4 linked regions of the Homo sapiens genome follow. The protein of the gene in region 4 purifies or fractionates together with the protein of the main gene of each other region. This does not show direct contact. Each region holds a gene or a part of one and is shown on either strand. Other genes may lie near its edges.

Region 1 (7,791 bases), on a different chromosome or scaffold from region 4:
ACTCCAGTCCAGTGGAAAAAATCTGTGAGTTAAATGACTTATGTTGTTAAGACTTGTACTACATATATTGAGTATAAAGTGTATCATAGAGTCTTGAAATTCGAGTGTTTTGTATAACTGCACTTGAGAAAGCAGAAAACTAACTGGGCCATCCCATCTTTCATTTTCTACATAGGTGTTTCTAAATCTTGACTGAATATTAGAATCATCTGGGAAGCTTCAAAATATTTAGATTCACTTATCTGTTTGCCATTTGTATGTTTTCTTCTGAGAACTGTCTGTTCAGGTCCTTGCCTATTTCATAATTGCTAAATGAGTATATTTGGAATGTTCTCACCTCAAAAATGTTAGGTATTTGAGGTGATGGATATGTTCATTAGCTTGATTTAATCTCTCCACATTGTATACATATGTCATAACATCACATTGTACCCCATAAATGTATACAATTAAAATTTGTCAATTTGTCCTTTAAAAAATTAGATTTAGATTCTGTATAGAGTGGGGCTAATAATCTTAAGTTCCCAGGTGATTTTAATATGTAGTCAAGCTTGTTACATATTACATATGTAATATATATCTTACATACTTGATTAAGTGAGTTGCTGCTCAGCCAGATCTAATGATCCAAAAAAATTCTTCAGCAGAAAAATTCTTCAGGACAACCAAACTCATCAAGTAATCACCATTAAGTAAAAGAGCTTCTCTTTTTCCGTCTCAAAGTGAATACTAAACAAATGTCATTTTTAGCATTCCTTATCATGCGTATGTAATTTGGCTTTGAAAACTGCTCATTATTTAGTCTTATTTCGAGATGGCACTTGGCAGCCAAAAAAAAAAAAAAGTTGACTGATATTTATGGTCATTGAAAGAAGTGAGGGAGGCACTTGCTTACAGATCTCCTGAACCATTGTAACTTGACAGCTTCAGGAATTATACCCTTCTCCATCTGCTTAAGCACAGGGAAAGCTAGCTTCTTCGCAAGGTGGATAGCCACCGTTTTGAGTGCAGCTGCTTGGGAGATGATAATAATGATGCTTAGAATTTTTTAACAGCATTCTCAAGATTGTGTGTCAGGGGTGAAATGTTTGAACCTGTTTCATTGGTGCTCTATTTATTCACCAGAAGCACCCTCATTCCAGAAAGGAATTAAGGGGAAGGCAGAAAAACTACTGCTAAATCAACTTGGCCATCGGTGGAGTATCTGTTTGAAAGCAAATCATAATCCTCACATTCAGTTGTCAAAACAGGGATCTAGTTCAGCTAATTAGTCAAAATCAGAGTGTTACAGTTATGGCTTATGAAAAAAAATCTGTATTGTCAACACTACACTAAGATTAGAAGCTAACAGAGCTATTGGATTGTCGGATATCATTGGACCAAACCACCTCAATGTATTGTCCATGTGTCTGTTAGCTCAGTCCAGGTTCCTTACCTAGATCATTAAGATTGATTTGCCAGATTAACCTTCTCTAATGTTTATCTAGCTCACTATTTCACTTTGCTTAGATATTCACAGCCCATGTTGGCTGGAGGTTATGTGCTGTGGGTTTTACTGTCTTTAATAGGCACTCTTTAAAGCCTTTGAGTTATATGTCTAATAGTTTATATTAACACATTACATTTCCTTGCAACATGTTTTAACCGCAAACTATATCAATCCATTTATGTTTCTTAAGTCAGTTTTATACATATTTGTAAGATGTTAACACTTATGACCTCAGAACCTGTTTTTAAACTGATACTGTTTTCTCTAATATACCATACTTTATAATAAACATTTGTAATTTATATGTAGGCTTAATTTATAAATTTTAATACTATTAAATACTACCTAAGGTTTGTCACAAGGAGATCTCATTATAACAGTTTTTATTAACTATTCATTTTGTTCTTTTCTATAATAATGCAAGTATACATTTATCAATTTATAACTTTGCATTGTCTTTACAGATTAATTAGAAAAATTTCTGTCACATATGCCTTGAGAGTAAATGTGTAATTAACACAAATATTTTTATTTTGCAGGTTTTACTTGCCACATGGCTTGAGTATAGATAAAGATGGGAATTATTGGGTCACAGACGTGGCTCTCCATCAGGTAGTCTTCCTTTTGGTAATATTCAAATTAGAAGCTAACAGAGTTATGCTTTTGAAGAGCTCTGGAGTTGTATGGGTTTTTTGTTTGTTTGTTTTTTCTTCTGTCACCCAGTAAGTTATAACAAGAAAATAGAGCAGCCATGTCTTAGTTCAGCATGTTATAACAAAGTACTATAGTCTGGGTGGCTTATACACAACAGAAATTTGTTTCTCACAGGTCTGGAGTCTGGAATTCAAGAACAGGGTGCCAGCATGGTTGAGTTCTAGTGAGGGCCCTCTTCTGGGTTATAGGCTGCTAATTTCTCATAGTATCCTTGCATGGCCAGAGAGATAAGAGTGACAGTAATCTCTGTTATCTCTTCTTATGGCACTAATCCCATTCATGAGAACTCTACCCTTTTGTCCTGATTACCTCCCAAAGGCCCTGCTTCATATTACCATCATATTGGGGGTTAGGATTTCAACATGTGAATTTGGATTTGAGGCACAAACATTCAGTCCATAACAATCCACATCTGAAATATTTCTCTTAGAACTCAATGCTAGGGAAAGCTAGTATGTAAATGATGAAGTCACATTTGTCCCTTGGACCAGATATGAAGCTTCACTCAAATAACTACATGGGCCCTCCCAACCATTTTCTTAACTGTCTGTATTTGCCTTTATTTCCTCTGTTCCTAACTTGTTGTTGTTGTTGTTGTTGTTGTTGCTGTTGTTGTTGTTGTTTGAGACAGGGTCTCACTCTGTCCCTCAGGCTGGAATGCAGTGGCACGATCTTGGCTCACTACAGCCTCCACCTCCCAGGCTGAGGTGATCCTCCCACCTTAGCCTCCCAAGTAGCTGGGACCACAGTCACACACCAGCATACTTGGCTAATTTTTTTAAATTTTTTGTAGAGATGGGATTTTGCCAGGTTGCCCAGGCTGGTCTTGAATTCCTGGACTCATGCAATCCACCTACCTCAGCCTTGCAAAGTGCTGTAATTAACAGGTGTGGCCATCGTGTCTGGGCCTAAGTCTTATTTCTATTTTTTTACTTATTTTTTTATGTTTTTTTCTTAAACTACCTTAATCTTCTATAAATTGAGGCTAGGCCTCTAGTAAATGTATATTTATATATAAAAAGTGAAATTTGTGTTATTTTTAAAAGAAGTTATATCAAGCGTAATATGCTTTTCATGAATAGGTGGCAAATAACTTGGAAAACATCATCTCAGTAAACATTTATTGCTCATGTATTATCTGGAGTGCATTGTAGTATTATCTAAGGAAAGACAAAAAGGAAACATCAGGGTGGACAGAACTGGGTATCCATGTACTAGTCTCCATTCACTACTAATTAACCGCGTGACCTTGAGCAAATCATTTAATCTTCATAGGCTTTATTATCAAATGAAGGAACCAGACCAGATGATTTCTAGGATCCCGTTCAGTTCTAACAAGTATTAATACCTTCTTTTAAATAAGTCTCTGGGAGCTTCTACTCCAATTGCTTGTGAAAGTGGTCTTAGTCATGTGGGTGTAAGTCACTAATAACCATGAAAAGTAGGTAAGGCTTTTGTTCCTTTTTAAAAAGGTGTTCAAACTGGATCCAAACAATAAAGAAGGCCCTGTATTAATCCTGGGAAGGAGCATGCAACCAGGCAGTGACCAGAATCACTTCTGTCAACCCACTGATGTGGCTGTGGATCCAGGCACTGGAGCCATTTATGTATCAGATGGTTACTGCAACAGCAGGATTGTGCAGTTTTCACCAAGTGGAAAGTTCATCACACAGTGGGGAGAAGGTACCCAATAAGACTCTTAATCTCCAGTTGTAATTCTTAGCCAGTATCACTGGGAACTAAATATTGGCCAACACTCACATTCTTTAAGCTGTAATTGTCCCCTACAGGGTCATTGTAACCTGGGTCATTGTATGCATCCAGTTAGCTTGTCTCTCACACACACACACACACACATATACATACACACACACACACACACACACACACACACGTCTTGTAAGGAAAATAATGTATCCACCAAACAACTATCCAAATAGGGAGAAAATCTGTAATGTATTTGTGGATAAAAGACATTATAAAATAATCTTATAAACTGCTTTACCTTATCTTTCCCCTGGCTCCAGGCATTTAATGGTTTACTATCATGAATTTAGAAACATACTAGAGAGTCAAACTTTGGGTGATTTTTAACATTGTGTATCTAAGGCTTTTTTTTGTTCTGCAGAGTCTTCAGGGAGCAGTCCTCTGCCAGGCCAGTTCACTGTTCCTCACAGCTTGGCTCTTGTGCCTCTTTTGGGCCAATTATGTGTGGCAGACCGGGAAAATGGTCGGATCCAGTGTTTTAAAACTGACACCAAAGAATTTGTGAGAGAGATTAAGCATTCATCATTTGGAAGAAATGTATTTGCAATTTCATATATACCAGGTATTTCATCTTAATATGTTTGTTGTCTTCTGTCCTACTGTACTCTATCCTTAAAAATTGTGTTATCTTAATGTGCTCTTTTTATAAATTTTCTTTGCTATATATTTCACATCTTAAAAGTATCTTACAACTGTTAGTGTGTTCTAACTCAGTTTTGATTAAGGTACCACTATTCATTGTACAGAAACAATGAAGAACTCAAAGGATTTAACACCTGTTTGTAAGGGGTTAAAAATGTTCCCAAACATTGATTTTCATTTTATCTTAATTATGATCATCTGCTCCAGTATTAAATAATTAATATTTGTCTTCACACATCGACAAATGGTATATGTCTGATAAAATCAGTATTCAAAATACTCATTTCACATTTTTAAAAACAGTAGTGACCAATTTTTTTAAAGATAAAATATGTAAAAATAAGTGTGGCTTATGCCTAAATACCAGGATAAATAATCAATAAAATCTTGAACTTTTTTCTCATTTTCAAAATAGATTTTCTTGACTCTAAGAAAATCTGAAAAATAATTCAGACTAATAAAATACATATAACTTATATTACAAAACAACTTACCATATTTTCTTTAAATAATGAAAATATATTTAATTTCTGAAATTTACATACAATTACAATTTTTTTAAATTGTAATTGACATAGTAATTGTATATATTTGTAGAGTACAATGTGATATTTTGATGTATGTTTACAATGTGGAATGACTAAGTAAGGCTAATTAGCAAACCCATCACCTCACATACTTATGTTTTATGGTGAAAACATTTAAAATATGCTCTTTTCACAATGAAGTGAAATGAGATCAATAACGAGGAATTTTTGAAAAATTCACAATTAAAGGGCACAACATATTTTAATAAAAACATCTATACCTGTATTAAAGCAGCATTGACTATTTATAGGTATTACTGTAATATTTATGTTTCTTATAAGTTGCATATGGCTACTATCTGGACCAAGCAGCCCCCCAAATTATTTAGGACATAAAATCAAGGGACTCAGGTGATTGATAGAGAGCAAATTTGGCTTCCTCAAGGAATAAAGAAAAAGTAATAAGAGGTTCTCACAACTATCATTCTTTAGGTTGGTTTGCCGCACATTTAAAGAAAAATTTGTCAGGACCCTTTACTTAATTAAGAGGGTGATCAAGTTCATAATAAACAAAAATAAATTAAATATAAGAAGAAAATTATCAGTTGAGAAGGAATATGGTTAAGAACAGAATCTAAGCAAAAGATAATTTTCTCTATAATTTTGCACAATAGTAATTGATGTTTATAGTGTTTTTTATAGTACATCCTAGAAAACTATAATCCTTCAAGAATGATGAAAATATCTTCAATGGTGGCTTAGCATTGTGTATAATTTATTATGTTTTAATTCTTTGAAAATGTAGTGGTTCAATCATCTGAATTGTTTATTTAACGTAAACATCACCATTTTCATTGTTCTGAATAAACAGTATTGTGTTAAGAAATATAATTTTACTACAAAAAGTATTCATGGTGTGAAAATTAAAAAGATGGTCTTTTTTAATTAAGGAAAATATGTCTTTGATAATCTGAAATATACATCTCACATTTTCAAATTCTAGTTGTTTAAAATCAGATTGTTCTATATAGACTGTAACTTCACTTATTTTCTTTGATTTTCTCTTGGATTCTCCATGTAGCTATGGCAAATATTACTTATTTTTTAAAAGATCTGAGACTCCAAAATTATTGGCCTAAATAACCTGACTTTCCCCAATTCCTATTTAGGATGCCTGTAATAGCTATATATGTGTATTATATCTATATATCAATATCTATGTATTTCTGATTTCTACTGGTTTTCCAAGTGGACCACACATTTCAGTTCCCGATTTTCCTGTCACAAGGAGGTTAGTCCTCTAACCAGTTTGCCACTGATCTGGTTACTCAGGAGGAGACACTAAGTATTTTATATTCTACTTTTGTTGCCAATTGTAGGGACCAGGTTGACCCTAAATTTATTCTTTGCATAATATACATGGATATATTAGAAGTCCATTCTTACCCATATTTTAAAGAAAGGTTAACTGGATTTGCTGTTGCAGGCTTGCTCTTTGCAGTGAATGGGAAGCCTCATTTTGGGGACCAAGAACCTGTACAAGGATTTGTGATGAACTTTTCCAATGGGGAAATTATAGACATCTTCAAGCCAGTGCGCAAGGTATTTACACACATTGTCTAGGTTTCAATTTTCATGAGAAGAAGACTAAAATATAAATCTTGGCATTCAATCTGTACTTGAATAGCTTTAGAAAAACTTTTAAGAAGATGTGATAACTTTCTTAGCAAGGTTGATGGGAGTGTTCTATTTTATTTTTTATTTTATATTTTATTTAGAATAAATGTCTTTGTCTATTCCTAGATCAATTTCTTCAGATGCAAATTAGCACGTGTGCAGTTCTAAGGTTCTTAGTAGAACTGCACCTGCATATGATGGCAGGTTTTTAAATTCACTATAGTTAGAATACAAAAAATAAATCAGTCGCTTTCTGGTTTCATCCAAGTAGAGAAAACATCACAACATGTTAAGTGTACTCTTAAAGTTCTCTTAGACCCAACAGACATCTTGTTTGCTTTCTTTATTGCTATGACTGTGCTAAGCAACAAGACTTGAAAATAGCACTTCCTGGAATTTATTCAAGTTCTAAAGATTTGGTTAAGAAACTAAAAGCTACTTTTGGCTTCAAAAGTGTTTTCCCACTGTTTATTCTAACGTGCTTTTTATAAACACAGCAACTGTGTTCAGTGTGCCCATGGCCCTTCTGTCTTCTCAGTGTACTTACTCTGCAGTATGATTGCCAGAGTGATCAGAATGTTCTCTACACTGTATGAATGTGCTTGGAGTATATGAAATTTAGAAAATTCAGCCTGCTAAAATGCTACAAATAAGTGTTATTCTTCAAAACATGTAAAGATTCATTGGTTTTAATTGGATCAAAATACAACTATCATCAGCTACTGAACCAAGTTTATATCTTGACACTTATAATGTTATGTTATTTTTAAGATACCAGATTTGCTAATTTAAAAAACTTTAAAATGCCTCAATATTATATTTTTAATTAAATTTTAATTTTTAATTTTTGTGGTTACACAGTACATGTTTATATTTATGGGGTACATGAGATATTTTAGCACAGGTATGCAATGTGCTAAAATAATAATAATCACATCATAGAAAATTGGGTATCCATCCCCTCAAGCATTTATC
Region 2 (7,791 bases), on a different chromosome or scaffold from region 4:
CAGAAAGCTCCTTAAATGGAGATATCGATTGCCTTGGAATCACAATCCTGATTTTGAAAATTCCTCATGAATGAAGAAAGGAATGGCATCCCTTGAGAAGGAAAGTGGTTAATATACATACTGAGCTCCTAAAGTTTAAATTCAGGTACTGAGTGTACAATTTCACCAACATTCTAACCCATGAAACTTTTACACTCTGTGCCAAGAAACTGTTGGCTTTTGTAAGGTACAGTGCTCAACATTTGCAGATTCAGGTCTCAAGAAGCAGAGATGTCTCATAAGCAGCATTTTCCCAACAGTTTAGCATCTGTACACATCTGCCTTGGTCATCAGTCCACTCACAGAGTACCATACTTTATCATCACAAGTGTCTGACGTGAACGAATGCCATTTTCTATTCCATATATTTTGCTTTACAATTTTAAGTATTTGATGAAGATGGTAACTTTTTCCTAACTTAGTTAACTATTAAAAAAAATTTTGAAAAGCAAGGTGATTGAAGGATTGTGATGACAATCTCTTTGCAGCAGCTATGTATGGTTTATGTGAAGTATCCCCACTTATTCTTGTGGAGCAGGTTTGGTGAGACAGCAATAACCAAATGACATGCCAATATTACTGGTGCAACTGGTATTCTACAAATGCATAAGGAACACATAGACGACTTCCTTTTAGGATAAAATGATGCTTCTTTCACTACCTTTTGTGGTAGCTGTGGCTTCCAATAGCAACTGTTTGACAGTTATATAAATCTTGCATGTGTATTCTTAGTTTGTGTCCCTTAAGTACTACTTAATTCTCAAGTAGTAATGTTATTCTTATACCCTTCAGCGTTCTATTTTGATTCAAAACAATTGATTCAAAACAATTTTGAATCAATTTTCTATTTTGATTCAAAACAATTGATAATTCTGTAAAAAAACATAAACACTGAATTCTTCAGTGAACCAAAGCAACAAATAATAGAGAAAACTTCTTGAAACTGGAGTGTGGGAAAACTTCTTAACAGAACTAAGAGTTAAAGGTAGTGAGAAGTGTGTGGTGTGTGAATTCTTTAGTGGTAAGGGGAAATGTGGGCTAAATCCTTTTCTTTCATGAAACTCTCATTCTATTTTATATTTCTGGTTTGTTCTTGTTCCCATGTGAGAAAACATACAGTTTCTGAAAATTCAAAATGGTCATCAATGCTTTGGACTTTACATAATTATGTATTAGAGAAGGTGCAACTGTACATTACTTAATATACTATGAACATAATAGAATAACAAAAAAAGATAACAAAGAGATGCAAACTTCTGGATAAATCAGATAAATGGTGCTACAGAGGAATTTAGTTATTTCAGCTTAATTATTTGTAAAAATAATAATCAGTGACTAGGTAAAGATACTGAAACTCAAGAAAAATATCTTGACCCATTTATGTCTAGTGTTCCATTATTGGAACGCTAAGCTTATGGGAGTTATTTAGAGCCTACTGCTCAAGGTCATCACCAAGGTCTGGTTGCAAAAATTCAAAAAATTGCAACCTCAGGCATAAATGGCTTAAGCCCAAGAGATGGCACTGACCATAAATGGTGGCTTGTGTGTGAAGGGTTTGGACTTCAAGATATACTAACACCTAGAAAACTAAAAGTGCAATTGACCCCCAATTACTATTTTAGTTTGAGGTATCAAGGGCATTTGCCAATCTCTTATATGTAGCTTCTAGAGTTGTGCTGTCCAATATTATATCCACTAGCCAACGTGGCTTTTGAAATTAAAATTAATTAAAATTAAATTAAAAATGTAATTCTTCAGTCACACCAGCCACATTTCAAAGGCTCAATAGCCACGCCTGGCTTGTGGCTACCATATTGGATAACAAGAAACACTTCCGTGGTTGAAGAAAATTTTAATGGACAATGCTGTGTTTCATTTGAATTCGTTGTCCTTGAAGAAAAGGGAAGAAGAGGAAAGAAACAAGATTTGGTAGCTCTTGGGCATATCCAAGCATTTTTGATTTTAGAGAGGCCCTATGGAGTAATGAAAAAAATACAAGCTGACACAGCTTTAAATCCCCACTGTGTTATCTTGGGAAAATCACTTCAACCTCCTTGAGTCTCAATTTGCAATTTTGGAAAAGAAAAACAATTTTTGTCCTGTCTTTCTTGCAAGATTATTATGCAACCTGATTAAATGTACAGATGTGCAGACTCTTAAAAACCTTATGTTAATGTAACCCATATAAAGTACGACTTTTGGTCGAGTACCAGCACAAATTTGCATTCAAAGGAAGAATAGTTCATCAGTGCAAAAAGCGTTCAAAGGTAATCAGTTCATCACGTATCTTGAGAAAAAGAGAATGCATTCAAAACACAAAGCAAAATTGCTTCAGTTTCTTTTCTGCCCATCTGAATATTTCCTTTAGTATTTGTCCCACATGACATCCATCCCATGTATTTATCCACTCTTTCACAACATTGCCTATGAACATCCTTCAACTGGCTCAGTTCTTTATTGCATAGAGCCACTTAGCTTCTCTAGTTTCTTATGATTTCCTATTTTACACTTAACAGCAAAAGGAGGCTTCCATTTAGAAGGCACTATCTCAAACATAAATAATTTCATATTTATTTTATCACTGTAACACTAAGGAGCTATGGCATTAAAATATAAAACTATTTGGAACTTAATGTAAACCTTTGCACATGCAGACTATATAAAGGGAATAAAATTATTTTAAATTATGCTAATATCCAGATACATATTCTAAGGTTAGTATCATTTATCAGTTTTTCGCAACAGATTCTTATGTTACATCTTCATGAGGGAGTATAAATTTGATCACGTCCCTAGTGTCTATTGCCCACTTGAGAAAGGTTTTGCCAGGATCCACAGATCGCTTCAAGATGCTTTCGTTTATGATAGGAAATTAATATTTAAATAAGACTAATTGAAAACTAGATTATCTGGTTCTAATTTCTTCCTCCTGTGAAATGTTCTTTTGGTTTGTATTTCTTTAGGTATTTTCCAAGTTACTGCTGCTTTTACTTCACGACCTCCAACCCCACTTTTGTTATCAGCGTCATATGCCAGAGTCATGGCAGATCCAGCCTGGACAACATAGTGAGACCCATCTCTATCAAATATACATATATATATATATATATACACACACACACACACACACACAAATATACATATATATCAAATATATATGTATATTTGATAGAGATGATAGCAATTATGTGTGTGTGTGTGTGTGTGTGTGTGTGTGTGTTAGCCAAGTGTGGTTTCTCATGCCTGTAGTCCCAGCTACTTTGGAGGCTGAAGTGTAAGAGTTGCTTGAGCCCATGAGTTAGAGGCTGCTGTGAGCTATGATCATGCCACTGCACTCCAGCCTGGGCAACAGAGCAAAACCCCATCTCTAAATAAAAAAAAAGAATCGTGAGACATCATGTAATCCAACCTCTTAATGTTACAGATAAGTAAACTGAGGCCCAAAGAGATATAGTAATAGTCCCAGTGTCAGTAAACTGGGTCTTGAACTTAAATGTTTGTTTCAGTTCTCATTGCCTTCATCTCTTAATTGTCGGCACTTAAGGCCAACCAAGCAGCTTAGACAGCGCAGTCCACTCAACGGTAACTTTATTTGCTATATTGACAATCTGCTCTGTTCTGTAATATAGAACATTGGATCAATCTTTATCTTTTTGCTGACTTAAGGAGGCTGCTATTGTTGCAATATCCAGAGATTTCAAGTTCTAGCCATTGCGGGGTCTTTGTGGTGTTTTCAATTTCTCCTCTCTCCACCCCTGCCCCCATCTGTGGCCATCTAAGTTAGCAATACAATTTATTTTGGCCATTTAAAATTTTTCTGCCTTTGTTTTATTTCTTCCCAAATATATTTGAAAATGAATGATCTATATAGCTGATTTTCTGACCACATATATAATTGCAATTTTTATTTGCTCTTCAAACTATTACAACATTTTTGTCCTTATAAGGTTTTTTGGGCAGATAATGCGAGGTCTGTGGTGTTACCTTTTATATACTCCTATTACCTTATGTTTGTGAAGCATTTTACATTTTACAGAGCACTTTGATTCATCTCCCTATTTGTTCATTTATTTAACTGTTCAGTTCACTGAAATATTTATTGAACACCTACTGGAACCAAGTGACTGTGCTAGTAACTTGTGATATACAGTAGTGAGAGTCCAGGCATGTAACCGATCATTATAATACAATAACATCCCTAAACCAGACTTTACAAGTAGATAGGATCAACAATACTCTATCAATTTTCAACTCCAATTTTCTATTCTACTTAAAATGGGAACTAGAAACTGTTTGCCTGAAGAATGTGTCTGAAACATAATATATCACTGCATGTCTGTGCTGTAGACCTGTTAATTTTATCTGTGAGAAAAAAAGTTACTCAAAATTCTCCCTGACCTAAGAATACTTTCTAGTTCACTGCAGTCTTACTGACCAGATGCAACAGTTGAAGTTTGATTTCTCGACCCAATATTTCTATTGGGTTTTGAATTATTAATATCACTGTTTTGAGGTATTCAGAAACACCAGTGTATCAAAAAAGCATTTGCACTTTAGGTGTGTGTGGTGGTTATGTCATTTATTAGACCATCCCAGACATAAGACAATCAGGGAAATCAGAAAACTCCAGCCTCAAATGTGTCTATAATTTCCTGTTCTACCATTGTCATATCATAACATGGTATTACTTCTTAAGGTTTTGATTAAGTTGATCTAGCCTCAACTTAAATTGTAATACATCTGCCTAATTATTGTCTGGAATAACTTTTCAACCATCCAATGCCCACTGCTCTCACAATGATTATTGTAGAGAAGTAAAATGGTAATTATTCAAGTAAAGTCACATAATTTCTGGAGTCAGTTTTTCATAACAAGTTTATGGAATACATCATCATTGGCTTCTTCATAATATATTTATTATGAGTGACCAAATTTTGCCTGGAGGAGCAAAATGCTCAAAACTTGTTATTATAGGTTAATTTCCAGCTCACTGTTGACACTGAAAGATTCTGTGTTACTTTAAACCCAGGATAAAAGGCTGGAAAAAAAATTAAATGTAAGTCATAAACTAGTACTCAGCTTTTCCTAGTTTCTAAGGCTTATTAACATTTGCAAATTACTCAATAAATGTCTTTCATAATGGAATAACATAAAAGCTTTTGATTTGGCAGATAGTGATATTTTATTTATTTTCATTCTGGTTGAAAAAAATCTCAGTGGCTTCTCTTCATTCCACGAGAATTTTGATTTTTAACAGCAGTCTCTCTTTTTCTCAGCATTGCAAATATATATGTATATATACATTCATGACCAAAGTATCGCTTACTGACCATGCAGCTGTAAACCTTCTGTGCCTATCAAACAAATACATAGCATGAAACTAATTTTAGAAGTTTCATGGGGGAATTTTAGGGGAAAGTATAAACCTAAGAGTGAGTGAATGGAGATGATTCATGGAAAAAAAAATAAAAATCTAAATGTGCTATTAGGCAGAGTTATTAACTTCTTTTAGTTGTTGTTTGAGATGGGGTTTTGCTCTTGTTACCCAGGCTGGAGTGCAATGGCGTGATCTCGTCTCACTGCAACCTCCGCCTCCCAGGTTCAAGCGATTCTCCTGCCTCAGCCGCCCAAGTAGCTGGGATTACAGGCATATGCCACTACAGCCGGCTAATTTTGTATTTTTAGTAGAGACGGGGTTTCTCCATGCTGGTCAGGCTGGTCCCCAGCTCCCGACCTCAGGTGATCCGCCCACCTCCGCCTCCCAAAGTGCTGGAATTACAGGCCTGAGCCACCGTGCCTGGCCGAGTTATTAACTTCTTAAGAGCAATGTGCTAATAAATACTCATTGATGACCAGCTCAAATTTAGGTCATTCAGACATCCAGACACTGGGGCACATATTCTGCAAGCAATGCTGAGACCCCTGACATAGAGAAAGCAAAGGATATGCCTATGATTAGTCTAAAATGCAGCCATCACCCCCCATACCTCTTCTATGGCATTCATCCTAACATCATGGAGGCCTTTGTCCTAGAGAATTATGTGACTTGCCCTAGAGAATTAGTGAATGACCAAAAAGAGACTTTCCATTTATCTTCCTTTGACTTAAAAGGCATGAAAATAAGGCAAAAAAATCAATAAAATAATTTTCCTGAGGAAAGGTTAAGAGATGGCACTTTCCTTTCCGGGCCCAGAGCTGGATTTCTCTGAGATTTGACCATCTCAGGACTCAGACAGACTCCAGTGCTATTTTCTGGACATTTGTGGTGAAGCCTCAGCCACCATGTTCAAGGTGGTTTGAATGAAAACATACTCAGATTGTCACATTTATAGCAGGGAAATAAAAACTCAAATTAGGCATCCTGCAGCAGGCTACTCTGAAAATAACATTAGGCAACATCAGAGCTTCACTTGCAAAGAAATGTTAAAATCATTTTAGGGAAATCAGTGAAGTCTCTTTAGAAACAGACATCTTGTGTATGGCGTAACCCAGTCTTGGGGCCCTCACGGAGAAGAGGGGGAAGTCTTTTCATTGATTGGTCAAAACAAATCTCTCATTTGCCTGATTTGAAGCATTTCAACAGTGCCTGGAGAGTACATTATTTTCAGGGGAAAAAAAGGAGAGAGTCTTTTTTATATGCCAGCTGGGATCATGGGAACTTCGAATGCCAGGAATTTACTACTGTTTCTGGTAATTCTGTGTGTAGTCATTTGAAATGTTGAAGTGTGAAAAGAGAAGAAATTGGGCACTTCTTGCGGCGGGGGAGGGGGGGGGGGCGGTGGCTTTCCAGATTTTATGCCAGTTGCACCAGCATGCAGAATATTTGTAATGCATTTCAAAGTGGATATAATGGCACCCTTTGTCAGAATCACAAAGCTCACTGCGGCACTGCTACAAGAGGACACTGAGGAAAATCTGGCCCTATGAACCTAGTCAACCCCAAGCAAAAAGAATGACTATGTGTGTGAGTGCAGCACATGGCCAGTTCGTTTCTCACTGTTTTGGAAAGCCCTGTGTGCCAAACCAAGGACGTGTCTTTCAGGGAAAGGTTAATTTTCCGAAGTTTATTAAAATAGAACTTGGAAAACCAAGCATTTTGAATTTATTCCAGTCCTCTGGGCATCATTCCTATTTCTTCTGCCATGTCAAGGAGAAATTCCAAGCCTGCATTCTGTCATGCTAAAATAACCAGCCCATACTTCTCGGTGACCTTCTGTTGAACGTACCTGAGCCTGCAAATGTAAAAATGATTGTATCTGAATCTGCACTAATGGTGTCTGAGAGCAAAAAGAGTGTGACCTCTATTGGAAACCTTTGTTCAAATTCAATAATTCAGAGATGCTACATACTTCTGCAAGCTTCCTGATTATGTTCACTGTAATATTAATGACCTAAGTTTGAATGTATTTCCTTACAGTCCATTAATTTGACATCCATCTTTTACCTGGGGATTATTACAATTGCAATAAGTCATTAATGTTTTCTTCACACAGCTTCTTAAACCAAGTTTCTCTGCAGCTCTTTCGGTTCTGCTTACAGTGTGTGGGAAATCTGATTTTTTTCCCCTAGTAATAGTTTGATAAGAAATTTAGTGTATTGACTGCCTCAGTGACACAATTTATCTTTAAAGGTGTGGAAGCTGGTGGGGACCAAATGTTACCTGTGTTTTTGCTGTTGATTGCTATTTTCAGAAGCAAACCATGTTTTTCACTTACAGTAGGAGTCAACAAATTTGGGATTTTAGAAGGGGGA
Region 3 (7,791 bases), on a different chromosome or scaffold from region 4:
ATGGAATGTTCTTCCATTTGTTTGTGTCCTCTTTTATTTCGTGGAGCAGTGGTTTGTAGTTCTCCTTGAAGAGGTCCTTCACATTCCTTGTAAGTTGGATTCCTAGGTATTTTATTCTCTTTGTAGCAATTGTGAATGGGAGTTCACTCATGATTTGGCTGTTTGTCTGTTACTGATGTATAGGAATGCTTGTGATTTTTGCACATTGATTTTGTATCCTGAAGAATATATTTTCAATACTGGAGATAGGTTTCCCAAAGACAATTGTGTGTGTGTGAAGGTCTTTTAACCAAAAAAAAGATAATTTTTGAGACTTTATTCTCAGGTTGTTCTTGAGGTAATATACGTTCTTGATTCCTCCAGTATCCTAAAGTAGTTGTTCATATGTCCATTTTAGACCTGGAGAAACTGAACCTCATAGAAGGTAATATTCCTGTCACACCTGTAAGGTGCAACTGGGACTGGAACCCAAATCAACCTACCATACCACAGTGCAGGAGCAAATTTCCAAATATCTTAGCCTGTGGTTCACTTTGTTCTCTGACCACAAGTCTCTGTTAGCCTGCTGCTGTCATTCATGAATAACTGGCTTGGCCCATGTGAAAAGGACCCCTTTATTGTCAGTATCACTGATGGCTTCCTATAAGTACATCTGTTAGGAAAAAGAACTTTCAGTAGTTAATGGAAATTAGAATGCAACTGTCGGCCAGGCACAGTGGCTGACACCTGTAATCCCAGCACTTTGGGAGGCCCAGGCAGGTGAATCACGAGGTCAAGAGATTGAGACCATCCTGGCCAACATGGTGAAACCTTGTCTCTACTAAAAAATACAAAATTAGTTGGCATGGTGGGACCTGTAGTCCCAGCTACTCAGGAGGCTGAGACAGGGGAATCACTTGAACCCAGGAGGCAGAGGTTGCAGTGAGTCGAGATCGTGCCACTGCATTCCAGCCTTGCAACAGGGCGAGATACCATCTCAAAAAAGAGAAAAGAATGCAACCCTCTTTAAGCAAGTTGACATATCACAGCCTCTGGTTGAGAAAGCATGCGTTAAAGTTCTTGCCAAGCAGCCATGCTGGGAAATACAAGGTGTCATTAGAGAGTGGCCCCACTTTATTACCCTAAACTGCCTCCCAGAATTCTGGGAGCATTTCCCCCACTGGACTGTCCTATAGGATACCAGCTCTTCCTTTGCACTAGCCCCAAAGTCTCAAAGGGAAATTCTACTGTAAAAACAAAAAACTAGCACCTCTTTACTATAAGACATAGTTGACTGTGGAATCTGGAATGCTCTGTGAAGGGTACTCTCTGACATCCCCTAAAACCAGTGTGTTCACCAAGGGACTCCCATACCACTGAGGCCTATCCTCAGTCCCTGGCTGATGCTGGCACACTACCTCTCTGGCCACATACCTGTCTTGCAGAAATGCCCCAGTGATGACTGCCAGACTCACCTCTGCTAGTAGAAATGGGCCTAAGTCTCTCTGTGGACTGTATCCGTGAAATTTCTTTGCTACCACTCATCCATACCAGCTGATACCTCACAAGGAGCTGATACCTCATTAGCTAACTACAGCTAAGGCTCCTCATCTGGACTCAGCCCTGGATGGTTTCACAGAATCCATGAATCCTAAAAATTGTGTGCAATATTCTGTGTGTTTATGTCTGGAGAAAGTTTACTTAACTTTTGTAAGAGGTAGGATGATCAGGTCAGTGTCACTCACTCTTTGCTCTAACAAGGCAACTAGCCCTCCTCCTGGATGGTTTACGTTTTCCTCCCCAGACAGGCATGTGGGAAAAAGACTCTGTTCTCAGCAGTCTCTACCACAGCTGCCCAGGGGCTGGCAGGAGCTCTGGTCTTCTCCAGGTTCTTAGCACCAAGCACTTAGAGCTCTCAGAACAATTCCAAGGCCAGAGTAGGATGTGGCCAGAGGAGCTGCCCAGCCTCAGCCTGATCAGATGAAGCAAGTGCTTCCTTACAGAGGTGGCTGAAGACCCTGTTCTCCACGGTGGGGGGTGCCATGTGGCCCTGGCCACTTAACTCAGTTCTCTTTGCTTTATTTGTTTGTTTGCGACGGAGTCTCACTCTGTTGCCCAGGCTGGAGTGAAGTGGTGCAATCTCGGCTGACTGCAGCCTCCGCCTCCCAGGCTCAAGAAAGTCTCTTGCCTCAGCCTCCTGGGTAGCTGGGACTACAGGCACCTGCCACCATGCCCGGCTAATTTTTGTATTTATAGTAGAGATGGGGTTTCACCATGTTGGTCAGGCTGGTATCGAACTCCTGACCTCAGGTGATCCACCCACCTCAGCCTCCCAAATTGCTGAGATTACAGGCGTGAGCCACCATACCTGGCCAACTCAGTTCTCTTTGCTAATGGTGCTAAGGAAGCCATATAGTTTAGTTGCTAAAATCCAGTGGTTTGTTCTGGAGTCAAACCACCTCAGTCTGGCTCCCATCCCTGTTATTTATAAGCTGTGTGACTTCGGGGAGTCATCAGCCTCTCTGGGCTTCAGTGCCCTTATCTGTAAAGTAGGGGATAAAACAGGCACTTAATTCACTGCAGTGTTGTGAAGATGAAACAGCATAGGCCTTCTAAAATGATGAACACAGTGCTTAGCACAGAAGGAGTGCTTGTGAATGCTAACATCACTGTTGCTATTACTGTTTGTCTCCTTTGATCCACTGCTCTCCCTTTGATCTGCAGGTGGCAGCTTTGGCTATCGCAAGTGGCAATGGCTTGTTACTCAAAGGAGGGAAGGAGGCTGCACACAGCAACCGGATTCTCCACCTCCTGACCCAGGAGGCTCTCTCAATCCATGGAGTCAAGGAGGCCGTGCAACTGGTAGGTCCCTGGGAATGCACCAAGTCAGGCCCAGAGGGGCCAGATCAGGTGTTTGGGAATTTAAAGCAAAACTTAGGCCACACAGAGCCAAGACACTACTACAAGCAGACTTGACACTCCAGCAGGCCTGTGAGCCTTCAGACTTTAGGCCATTCTGCAGAGCCAGATGGGTCCTCAGTGGCTTAGGAAGGCCCCTCCCTTACAGCTGCGTCTTGGCACTATTTATTTACAAGAATGTCAATTAGACCTTCATTCTTTGGGTCACAAGGCAGCAGGAGTACCAGAACTAGAGTGTGAGGCCTAGGTTCCTGTCATTGGCAGAGTGATCTAGGGTAAGTCAGATGAGAAACTTTACAAAAGTTTGTCATAAACTGTCATGCGGTGTGTTGAGTATGAGATCATGCTGTTATCACTATTATTATTAAGGTCATCACTTTAACTGACCATTTCTCATTCTCCTCAACTGTCAAATGAAGTTTGATAATAATAGCTACTACTTGTTGAGTACCTACTATGTGCAAGGCTCATTTTATCCGTTAACTCATTTGATCGTCACAGCAGTCCCATAAGGAAAATATCATTAATTATTAGACTCATTTTCTACATTGGGAAAAAACAGATTCAGAGGTAAAGTAATTCCCCAAGAGTCACATGGTGTGTGATAGAGTTTAGATTTGGACCTAGGCTGACTCCAGATCCTTTTTTTTCTTTGGCTCATTTGCTCCAACATTCCAGGATTCTGTTGGCTACTGGGAGGATGTCTACAAACCTGCTCATTACACACTCAGTGACCAGAATCTGGTTTTTTTCTTATGCCCACATAGTGGTTGGAAAGAGCGCAGATTTTAGGGATTCAAATCCCAGCCCCACCACTTCCTAGCTTACACAGGTGCCCTCCCTCCTTTTCTTCCTATTGATGTGTAACATACGTACAGTAAAGTATACAGATCCTGTGAACCACTCTGCGACTGTTCACACACACACATGTATAACCACCAGCCGTATCAAGATACAGAACAGTCCAACATCCTGGAGGGCCCCCTTGTGCCCTTCCCAGTCAATATGTAGCCCCCTTCCCCACAAACTACTTTTTTGACTTCTGTCACATTAAATTACTTTTGCCTTTTTTTTTTTTTTTGAGACATGGTCTTGCTCTGTTGCCCAGACTGGAATTCAGTGGCACAATCTTGGCTCTCGGCTCACTGCAGCCTCAGCCTCCTAGGCTCAAGCAGTCCACCCACCTCAGCTTTCCTAGTAGTTGGGACTACAGGTGTGTGCCTCCAGACCTGACTAACTTTTGTGGATTTTTTGTTTTTTGTAGAGACAGGGTTTCACCATGTTGCCCAGGCTGCTCTCAAACTCCTGAGCTCAGGCAATCTGCCTGCCTCAGCCTCCCAAAGTGCTGGGAATGTGCCACCACGCCCTGCCTTTTGCCTATTCTTGAAATTTATATAAATGAGATCAAACAAAACACACGTTTATGTTGCCTGTCATTTGTTCGTTATGTCTGTGGCATTCATTCCCATTGTTGCATCTAGCAGTAGTTTTCTCATTTAATTGCTGGGTAGTGTTCCATTTACCTGCATATACTACAGTTCATCTTTTCTTCTCTTGATGAATATTTAGATTGTTTCCAGTTTTGGGCTATGTGGAATAAAGTTGCTGTGAACATTCTGGCACACATATATATTTGTTATAAAAGTAATATGACCATGTGGAGAAAAATTAAAAATCAAGAGAAAACAAAATGCCCATAATCTCAGTATCCTCTCACAGGCTCTTTAAGTCATTCTAATCCACATCCCAGGGTAGAAGTTGCCATCAGAAGTCATGAGAACCATGACTCCCTAGCAAGACCAACCCAACATTTCCTCAATGCTGTGAATAGAAAACCAACAGAGAAGCCACTCCCTTTTGTGATCTTCATGGCCTGGAGTAGTGTACTGCATTTAACCTCCATAGATACCCCTTTGTGCTGCTTCTGGCATTTTAAAAATTGTCTGCCCTGTATTATGGCTAGCAGTACCCTAGTGCTGCCTTCCCTACTTGATGCTGAGCTCTTTGACGGCATGCAGTGTCCTGCGTGATATGTGATGTGGAGCACAGCACCGAGTATATAGTGTTTGATAAGCATTTGCTGGACAACTTTTTGATTCCCATGATCGGGAACTTAATTTTGTTTTTAGAATAAGTTTTCACAGTGTCTCACTTAGTTCTCAGAGTGTACAGATGTTTATCTGTAAAAGGGAAGCTGCTGTTTTTATATTTTGTGTGGTCAGATGTCATCTTTATCTTTTTCTTCTTTCCTTCTAAAGGTGAATACCAGAGAAGAAGTTGAAGATCTTTGCCGCCTAGACAAAATGATAGATCTGATCATTCCACGTGGCTCTTCCCAGCTGGTCAGAGACATCCAGAAAGCTGCTAAGGGGATTCCAGTGATGGGGCACAGCGAAGGGATCTGTCACATGTATGTGGATTCCGAGGCCAGTGTTGATAAGGTCACCAGGCTAGGTGAGCTGGATGGGGTCTTCTCTTTCACAACGGAGAAATATTACATCCTCTGCAGCTCTGGATCATGTCAATGGAAACAATTCTTTGCTCATCTTCTTTCAGTCAGAGACTCTAAATGTGAATATCCAGCTGCCTGTAATGCTTTGGAGACTTTGTTAATCCACCGGGATCTGCTCAGGACACCATTATTTGACCAGATCATTGATATGCTGAGAGTGGAACAGGTAAGAGTTCCATAGGACTAGTACATTACTTCCTGTCTTAGAAGCCTGTGGAATTAGACCAGGCACAGCCATACCATATAAGGCAGTTTAAGAAACAATATTTTTTAATATCTTCTGTGTACAAAGTTCCATGCTAAGTAAAGTGTGAGTAAAACACAACCCCTGCCCTCTAGTAGTCGAACCAAACCAATACACAAATAGCTTTATTACAAAGTGGAATGTGTTGTGTGCTAAAGAGGGTTCAAAGGTAAGACAGACCACATGGCACTATGCTGACTGAACTGTTTCTGGCAACCTTATATATGCAAGGTGTTCCCAAGCATATATTATTTTTTGGATTTGATTTGAAAAGATGGTGCAGAAACGTTTCAAACCAAAAACTTATGTACATTCACTGCCTCCCCCCAGTGTCTTTGGTTACCAATATTAGTGTACTTAATGCAGTGATATTTGGGATTCAGTAATTTGTAGAATGTCTCCCTGGATTATGTTTTTACTATATTGTTAAGGTTGTAAACAAACCAAAAGCCAGTAAGTTTCAAATATAAAGTTGTGCTGTGTCCTAAATTCATGCCTGCAAGAAAATATAATAGATGCCCTCAAGGCAAAAATGGACAATCTGTTAAACTCTCTGCATGGATGCATTTTAAGCTTTAATTTCTGATGTCATAGTACACTTTCAGAGTTATATAAACCAGCATGGCAGTAGAGAAGGTGCTTGTTGGCCTTGGTTGCTTTGACTCTGAACATATGTCTCTTCCCTTCCATCCTTTGACTGGAAAGGAAGGCTCCAGTTAGCTTATAAATGTGGCATGGTCCCAGTGAGAACTGGAAAGAATTGTTTTAAAAATGAAACTGTACTCCATGGATTACAAGGAAGTTAGATCACATGGTCATTCATGTTCGGGGACCTTACTTTACTTTGGTAAGGAAGCCTGTTGATTGGGCACCTGTGTTTGCCAAGCACCACAGTGAACTGGATTAGACAGGAGGAAAGCTCTCCTTTAGCCAGGACTAAATCCCTCCCCAGACCTAATTTGAACACACAAGTGGTATCCTCAGTCATTAAAATGAGGATGGCCTTGAAATTCCAAATCAAAATGAGTCACTGTGTGTACTTCATACAGCACTTTTGGATGGCAGAAAGTAAAGCTAGAAGGATGACTTGCACAGGGATGGGGTTCCAGTCCCCAAGGAACACAGAAGAAGTGAGATCCCAGATAAGAAACAATGGCAGGGCCTCGGGAATCATGAGGATAAGGCAGACACCACTTATAACTTGAGCCAAGGCAAAAGCTTGATCCCAAAGAATCAAGGCATGAACCCTGTCCTGGGGATGTCTCAGAAAACAAGGTTTAAGTGGGATCCAGCTTGTGATTGGGATCCTCGGTGACCAGCCTCAGAATCCTTAAATTCCTCTAACCAGCAGCAGGATTAGAGCCAGAGCCTGGGGCTGAGCTGAACCTAGAGGTGGGGCCAGACTGACGCAGTTGGAAATCAAATGAGTAGCCACAGTTTCAGGTGCTGAAAGCACCTGACCAAGTACTGCTTACCTCTAAAGCAAACCTGGGACTTCGCTAGGGTACAGGGAGTAGCAATGTATATGTGGCACCTCCCTTTTTCCACACGAGTCTAGTGCCTAGGTACCATATGCAGGAACTGGGATCTTTATTGTCAAGTATTCATTTTAGGAAAATGCCAGAAGTCAAGCCCTTGTGTTGATAACCCACTAAACGCCTTGCACATTCTTTTTTATTCTTTTTTTTTTCTTTGAGACGGAGTCTTGCTCTGTGCCCCAGGCTGGAGTGCAGTGGCACAATCTTGGCTCACTGCAACCTCTGCCTTCCAGGTTCAAGCAGTTCTCCTCCTGCTTGAACCTCCCAAGTAGCTGAGATTACAGGCACCTGCCACCATGCCCTGCTAATTTTTTTAGTAAAGACGGGGTTTCACCATGTTGGCCAGGTTGGTTTTTGAACTCCTGACCTCAAGTTATCCACCCGTCTCAGCCTCCCAAAGTACTGGGATTACAGGCGTGAGCCACCATGCCCGGCCCACCTTGCACATCCTTAACGTTCAAGGCTTCCTGCTTCAATCCCTGTTCCAACTGTCTTGAGGGCCCATTGCTGGCAAGTGGCCAGTCAGATCATGCTGGAGGGAGGAAAGTAGGACTAGTTCAGTTGTTGAGGCTACAGGAGCCACTTTGGGCTGTGGTTTT
Region 4 (7,791 bases):
TCCCTGATATGGAAAGCGTATGTTATATAAACATTTCTACAATAAACATAAAACATGCGGAACAAATCATAAAACTAACATGATTTGTAAGGTAGGAAAGACAACTAGCTTAACACCAGAAAATAAAAAGGTGTGTATGTTGCAATTTCATGTAAATTCATCTTCTCCCAGGCTCTGTGATATTCTCAGAGAATGAAATCCAGAGACAACCTTTGCTAACTCCAGGCTCCTAGGAAGTCGGACCGGAAAGCTGGAGTATTGTTATGATTTGGTGAAAATGTTTATAATCCACTTGTACAGAGAGAAACCTGGTCTTATTATTTTAAATTTTAGCTTGGTGAACATATGAAAAAAAGCCAAAAGAAGCTTACCTTAAAAGCTAAAGAAACTGGATGTGACAGAGGCCAAAATAAACATGAATTATGCCACCTACAGCCCAAACAACCAGATCTTATGAATGAAGGCCAGAAAAAGGGGGAGAGAGGTGGACTCAAATGTGAATTTTCTTTCTATTGGTCCTCCTCTCAGCTGGGTGAGTCAGTCCCACGCAAGAATGGCGACGGTCATCCTCCTGTCAAGAGGGGGCGGTTCTTTCACACACTACCTTGGAGAGGAATGTGGCTTCTACATCCTCACTTCTTTTAGCTTCAGTTCCAGATTTCTGACCTTCTTCCTGTGATACTGTGGAGCATGCCTAGTTGACTGGTAGCTGAGTGGAACAAAACTTGTAGATGTAATTCAAAGAAAACTGATTGAAAGGGTCAGTTGCATTGGTTAAAAAAATCCAAGAGCCTCTTATTACTCATCTGTTCCTTAGCCCCACCTTAGACAGGCTCAGAATTTATTCCTCTACTAAGTCTTCAGTCACTCTCTGCATGTATTCAAGCTCTCAGCAGTCATACATCAAACAATAGTAGTTGTGTGGTACATAATAATTATAAGCTATTTTGTAAGTGGCTCTTGTTCTAGGAAGGCACCTCAGTAAGAACAATGATCAAAAAGAATAAAAAGCCTGGGTGCCAGACCATCCCAGGAATGCACTAAGTGAGCCAGCAAGGAAGCAGCAGCTTGTCTGTTCCAGGAAATGCTGGCTGGGTGGGAGTGGGTTCTCACCTTCTTCAGTGTTTGGCTTTAGATGATATACTCTGCCAATTTAGCCTTAGAAATAACAAGAGAATATCACTGTCTGAAACATTAGGGTATTCTAAAAGAATACAGATAAGAAAATTAGGATACTCTTTTAGAATACCTATTATTTTAAACTTAAGCTTGGTGAACATCTGAAAAAAAGCCAAAAGAAGCTTACCTTAAAAGCTCAAGAAACTGGATGTGACAGAGGCCAAAATAAATATCACTTATGCCAACCACAGCCCAAACAACCAGATCTTATGAAGGAAGGCCTCTCATCTAGATATTAGGATATCTAAAAGAATATCCTAAATTTTTAATCCATATTCTTTTAGAATATCCTAATTTTTCTTCCTAATTCTAAAAGAATATCCTAATTTTTTAGACCATCCTAAGTTTTTGGAAAGCCCTCTAAGTGAGTTTTCTCAAAGCCAAAAGTCTTGCCATAAAAAAAAAAAGAAAAAAAAAAAACCTCTAACAGCCCTGAAAAACCAGCCAGCACACCAGGAATCCACCTTCTCCCCACGGGCTTCTTCTGCATGTGTGTCCCCCAACTCTCTCATAGTCAATGGAGAGAAGGGAACACTGCCTTCAAAATCAACCACTTTGCTCCTAGGAGTAGGGTCCTGTCAGCAGAGGGGACACCAACCCAGTCCCAGTGTTGGGCCACTCAGTGGAACCAGGAAGTATGACCCAACAGACCACAGAGACTTTGTTCCCTGCCTCCGTTGAGTCAGCTTCGGACCCACGGTTCACTATCATCAATAACGTGAAATATCACATAATGGCTGGGACTATGCAGTCAGACCCCCACAAAGGGGCTGGGATCCAATCTAGGAAGAGAAGCTCCTTGCTCGATCTTAAAACCCAAGACATTATATTTGAGGGGCACAGCAAACAGTGCAAGAAAATCTGCTGATGGAAGATGATTTTCATCAGTCCTCAGAACCAGAAACTATAAAACTGGGAAGGAAAGTTTAAATAAAGAATTTATTTCCAAATTCAGCAGAACTTCTTTCTTTCTTAAAAAGCCAACTGGGTTAAAAAAATCCAAGTTTGTGTTTTTTGGTGGTGCAATAATTATAAATGTTGCCAGTCAATGCCAACCAGTGTCTGATTGGCTTCCTGTGCATGTCCAATTTCCTCTGTGACACTGTGTTGGTGCCAGAGCTTCTGAATCTTCTTGAATCGCTCTTTGCATAAATGTAAAGGATTTCCCCGTCTAGAAAGAGAAGACACATGTCACTCAGAATGTGTTCTGTTTATTCCTCTATTATAACCCAACCCTTCCTGATTTAGGCAAGGTTACAAGTTATTGGTTTTAGACTCCCTGCAACATTTCTGTCTGGCAGGTGACTGTGGCTATTAACAAAAACATCAGCTCTGACCCTTTGCCAAGAGCAGGTAAAAGGGAATAAGTGCTGAAATGAGGAAGGAAAGGTACACAAACCAGACTTACCCAGAGTGAGGTGAGGGAATAGAGGTTGCGGGGGATAAGGAGGGTCTGGGTTGAGAGGCTAAAACTACCAATTCATTGCCCATTTTGTTGGTAACGTGTAAAAAGGGAAGAGGGCAGAGGAGAACACAAAAGAAGAATTATAGGAGTAAAAATATTCCTCACAGATTTTACTAAGAGTGCAAAGAAAAAAGAAAAGAAAAGAAAAGAAAAACATTCCTCAGATGCAATCTTTCAGCCACAGTCTCAGTGAAGCAATCAAATGTGAGTAACTTCCAGGTCTAATTTAAACACAAGTGCAAGCTTTGGTGGGTTCCTGCCTGGGACCAGTGCCCTGAGCCAGGCACCTCTGCTCCTGTTTCTGAGCACAGCCATCCTCTCACTCACTAATCAGACTCTCCTCCTCCTAACAGCCCACGCTGAGAACAGTGGGAAGCACCAGCACTGGGTGGCATATGGGCATAGCCTCGCAGTCCAGCGCCTGGGGCAGCTCATCTACTTACCTTGCTTGGGTTTCTAGGCCTTTAACATCTGCTACTTAAGGCTGGACAGGCATATCTATGGCGGTTAAAACTTATACCTCCTTTAGACAAAAGAGATGGTCTGAAAGAAGTTCTTTAATAGTGCTTGGGGGAATTGTTAGCTTACAATATACTAAAGCTACCAGAGTAGAAGTAACTTAGCCTCAAATATTGTTATATTGTTCTTTATGTTTTAAATCTTTGTCCCCCAGATTTTAATGTAATAAGCACATTTGTTAGCAATTAAGATTTTCTCAAACACTGGGCTTCCTCTATACAAGGCCATACAAGTCAGAGTGGGCCATCCCTGGAGTGCTCTGAGCTGGGATGCTATATGGCAATTCAAACAGTTCTTTGGAGTGATAAATGGAATAAAGTTGCACTCTGTCCTATTCTCTTCCCTTACCTATCCTGATGTTCCTCATGGCATTCTGAAGGCTGGGAAAAGAACACCAAACCAGGCTGACAGGGCACCCTCCTTGGAAGACTCCACAGATAACACAGCCACCTCTTCCAGAACCACCTCAGCCCTCCACCCTCAGGACGTCACCACATACGGAAGGGCGCTGCAGGCCCTGAGTTAGCTAACTCAGGATGGGTTCTTACCTGAGTCCCTGGTCGGTCTCCCCATAGTCATCAAGGTAAGGAGGAGAATAAAAACAGCCTTTGGTTTTGCCAGCTAAAAATAGCACCTGACATTCCCGTACTCTGTAGAGAGATCAGTCATACGTTACACATTTACACATTAGTAACCAACATTTGTATTCAGTTCCAAATAGAATGAAGTCTTATAGTACTGATATTTAAACCACTATTAGGAGGAAGTTATCCATTAAAAAATTGTGCACAAACTAGGAAATAGGTTGAATCGAGTCAAATTTGTGTCCCCTGATCCCTTTGAGACATTTGCCTTTTTCTGGCATTAATAGTACAGCACAATTAAACAGACATTTATTGAGGACCTAATACGTATAAGAAATTATCAAGGTACTGGGGGGATGACTAAGCTATGGATACAACCTATGCTCCAGAGGAGCCCACACTCATGTCATGCCTCTGCTTCAAACCCTGAAATGGCTTACACCTTGCCCAGAGATGTCACCAGCACACAGCAGGCCCCTGGATTCTCTCACCTGTGCACAACACTCCAGTGACACGCGCCTCCTTGCCTTGAGCAGACAGGCACATTTCTACCCCAGGAACTGTGCAGAATGTTCTGAGTAGAATGTTCTCCCACTTCTTTAGGTCTTTACTCAGAAGTCATGTTCTTAGGAAGCCTTCCCTGATCTACTAAAATTAAATCTCAAATTTAGCTCCATAGCTGCCATTTCATATTCCCCTTCCCTGCTTTATTTTTTCTCCTTAGCCTATATCACTATCTAAATTCTTGTCAGTCTTGCTTGTCCTCTCTCTCATACAAAACAAGCTCCATCCATAAGGGCAGAGATCTTTGCACTGTGGACTACTGCATCCTCAATGCCTGGTACATAGTAGTCACTAATCACAAGCTGGCATGTAGAGTTGTGATAATATGTATAAGTGGAGGTAAAATCCAAAAGCCATGAGGACATAACAGAAAGAGTAATTCTGACTGGATTTGTTCAGAAAATCAGAGAAGTTTCACATTAGTGGGAGACATGGAGAAAGTAGAACAGAACTGTCACCTATGGTTGAGGGAAGAGGAGTGGGAATGGTAACAATAAAAGAACCAACACAGAGTTGGCATGGACCAGATGTGAGATGTGAGGCGACAAGGAGCTCCACGTTTCTGGAATGAATCACACGGAACAGTAGTCTCAAAATTCCTGGCAATATAGTAGTTTCCTGTGACACCCTAACAGTCAGATACTGAGGCAGATCCAAAGCTAAAAAGCCCCTGCAGGTCCTTACCTCAGGAAGATGCCCACTCCAGAGCCACAGGAGTAGGTGTGAGCTGTGCAGGCTCCTACATCCTCCCCTTCCAGTTCAGTCTGGCAGCAGTAACTCTGGGAGCACAGCAGAGATCCGCACACAAGGCACAGAGTTGGGGCTCTGCTCTTATCACCACCTGATTTCGGGCACCTCCAAGGGATAAAAAACCCACAAGTCATTGATCTAAAGAGTGGCTAAAGAGCTAGTGATGAAAAAACCAGCCCAGAAAAGAATTCTGCAATATCAAGTAAAGCCAAAGAAGTGTATATCCTACAGTCTATGCAAGTTTATTCCTAGAATCTGGAATAGGAAACATCTTGCACATATATACAAAGACCATGTACTGGAAACACTCAAAAGAATCAGTAACTGGAGAAAAAAAAATAAATAAAATCATCAATAGGAGAAAAAGATAAACGGTACCACTGCCATATAATAAAATACTATGGAGCAATGAAAAATCAATAAAGTTATAAACGTCAATACAGATAAATCTTAGAAACAATGCTGAATGAATGCAAAATTGGCTGGGTGCAGTGGCTCACGCCTGTAATCCCAGCACTTTGGGAGGCAAAGGTGGGTGGATCAACTGAGGTCAGGAGTTTGAGACCAGCCTGACCAATATGGTGAAACCCCGTCTCTACTAAAAATACAAAAATTAGCCAGGCATGGTGGTGTGCACCTGTAGTCCCAGCTACTTTGGAGGCTGAGACTGGAGAATCACTTGAACCTGGGAGGCGGAGGTTGCTGTGAGCCAAGATCACACCACTGCACTCCAGCCTGGGCAACAGAGTGAGACCCTGTCTCAATAAATAAATAAATAAATAAATAAATAAAATAAAATACAACATACAGCTCTCCCTCTCCCTCTCTTCTCTCCCTCTCCCCTTTGCACAGTCTCCCTCTGATGCCGAGCCGAGGCTGGACTGTACTGCCGCCATCTTGGCTCACTGCAACCTCCCTGCCTGATTCTCCTGTCTCAGCCTGCCCAGTGCCTGGGATTGCAGGCGCGCGCCGCCACGCCTGACTGGTTTTTGTATTTTTTGGTGGAGACGGGGTTTCGCCGTGTTGGCCGGGCTGGTCTCCAGCTCCTGACGGCGAGTGATCTGCCAGCCTCGGCCTCCCGAGGTGCCAGGATTGCAGAGGGAGTCTTGCTCACTCAGTGCTCAATGTTGCCCAGGCTGGAGTGCAGTGGCGCGATCTCGGCTCGCTACAACCTCCACCTCCCAGCCGCCTGCCTTGGCCTCCCAAAGTGCGGAGATTGCAGCCTCTGCCCGGCCGCCACCCCGTCTAGGAAGTGACGAGCGTCTCTGCCCGGCCGCCCAGTCTGAGAAGTGAGGAGCCCCTCTTCCTGGCCGTCATCCCGTCTAGGAAGTGAGGAGCGTCTCTGCCCGGCCGCCCATCGTCTGGGATGTGGGGAGCGCCTCTGCCCCGCCGCCCCGTCTGGGATGTGAGGAGCGCCTCTGCCCGGCCGCGACCCTGTCTGGGAGGTGAGGAGTGTCTCCGACCGGCTGCCCCGTCTGAGAAGTGAGGAGCCCCTCCGCCCGGCAGCCGCCCCGTCTGGGAAGTGAGGAGCGTCTCCGCCCAGCAGCCGCCCAGTCCGGGAGGTGGGGGGCAGCCCCTACCCGGCCAGCTGCCCCGTCCGGGAGGTGGGGGGCAGCTCCCACCCGGCCAGCCGCCCCGTCCGGGAGGTGGGGGGCGCCTCTGCCCGGCTGCCCCGTCTGGGAAGTGAGGAGCCTCTCTACCTGGCCGCCACCCCATCTGGGAGGTGCAACCAACAGCTCATTGACAACAGGCCGTGATGACGATGGCGGTTTTGTCGAATAGAAAAGGGGGAAATGTGGGGAAAAGAAAGAGAGATCAGATTGTTACTGTGTCTGTGTAGAAAGAAGTAGACATAGGAGACTCCATTTTGTTCTGTACTAAGAAAAATTCTTCTGCCTTGGGATGCTGTTAATCTATAACCTTACCCCCAACCCCGTGCTCTCTGAAACATGTGCTGTGTCCACTAAGGGTTAAATGGATTAAGGGCGGTGCAAGATGTGCTTTGTTAAACAGATGCTTGAAGGCAGCATGCTCGTTAAGAGTCATCACCACTCCCTAATCTCAAGTACCCAGGGACACAAACACTGCGGAAGGCCGCAGGGACCTCTGCCTAGGAAAACCAGAGACCTTTGTTCACATCTTTATCTGCTGACCTTCCCTCCACTATTGTCCTATGACCCTGCCAAATCCCCCCCTCCGAGAAACACCCAAGAATGATCAATAAATACTAATTAAAAAAAAAACATACAAAATAACAATACATGCTGCTCAAGAATAGAAACTTATATAGTTAATGTATAGGAATGGAATGCTTAATATTCCATTTAGAATAGTAGGTATCTTCAGAGGGAGGAGAAAGAGGCAACAGAGAAGAGACAGCTGGGGAGCTTCAACTGTCTAGGTAATGTTTAAGCTCTTACATTATTATATTCTTCTTTTTTTTTTTGAGACAAGGTCTCGCTGTCACCCAGGCTAGAGTGCAGTGGCACGATCATGACTAACTGCAGCCTCCATCTCCTGGGCTCGAGTGATACTCCCACCTCAGCCTCCCCTATTATATTATTCTTTATGCTGCTTGTATGTTAAATATTTGATACTATATTAAAAATTACTGCCGGGTGTAGTGGCTCATGCCTGTAATCCCAGCACTTTGGGAGGCTGAGGTGATACTAAAAATACAAAAAAAAAATTAGCTGGGCGTTGTGGTGCATGCCTGTAATCCCAGCTACT

The links.
Region 1: the proteins of UBR2 (region 4) and PAM purify together in Homo sapiens (affinity purification with mass spectrometry; 4 studies listed by BioGRID and IntAct, with this or other methods). This does not show direct contact.
Region 2: the proteins of UBR2 (region 4) and PLXDC2 purify together in Homo sapiens (affinity purification with mass spectrometry; 4 studies listed by BioGRID and IntAct, with this or other methods). This does not show direct contact.
Region 3: the proteins of UBR2 (region 4) and ALDH18A1 purify together in Homo sapiens (affinity purification with mass spectrometry; 2 studies listed by BioGRID and IntAct, with this or other methods). This does not show direct contact.

Annotation. Positions count from the first base shown.
Region 1 is NC_000005.10:103,003,126-103,010,916, forward strand, and holds part of PAM (peptidyl-glycine alpha-amidating monooxygenase isoform e preproprotein), read left to right. Parts: coding exon 1-24; intron 25-2,028; coding exon 2,029-2,101; intron 2,102-3,675; coding exon 3,676-3,886; intron 3,887-4,331; coding exon 4,332-4,532; intron 4,533-6,625; coding exon 6,626-6,741; intron 6,742-7,791. UniProt on the Homo sapiens protein: Bifunctional enzyme that catalyzes amidation of the C-terminus of proteins. Alpha-amidation is present at the C-terminus of many endocrine hormones and neuropeptides and is required for their activity.
Region 2 is NC_000010.11:20,281,182-20,288,972, forward strand, and holds part of PLXDC2 (plexin domain-containing protein 2 isoform 1 precursor), read left to right. Parts: 3' UTR 1-7,791. UniProt on the Homo sapiens protein: May play a role in tumor angiogenesis.
Region 3 is NC_000010.11:95,611,527-95,619,317, reverse strand, and holds part of ALDH18A1 (delta-1-pyrroline-5-carboxylate synthase), read left to right. Parts: intron 1-2,703; coding exon 2,704-2,841; intron 2,842-5,156; coding exon 5,157-5,352; intron 5,353-5,454; coding exon 5,455-5,576; intron 5,577-7,791. UniProt on the Homo sapiens protein: Bifunctional enzyme that converts glutamate to glutamate 5-semialdehyde, an intermediate in the biosynthesis of proline, ornithine and arginine.
Region 4 is NC_000006.12:42,685,591-42,693,381, reverse strand, and holds part of UBR2 (E3 ubiquitin-protein ligase UBR2), read right to left. Parts: intron 5,167-7,791; coding exon 4,996-5,166; intron 4,396-4,995; coding exon of another isoform or gene 4,374-4,395; exon of another isoform or gene 3,833-4,373; intron 3,814-3,832; coding exon 3,712-3,813; intron 2,351-3,711; coding exon 2,209-2,350; 3' UTR 1-2,208. UniProt on the Homo sapiens protein: E3 ubiquitin-protein ligase which is a component of the N-end rule pathway.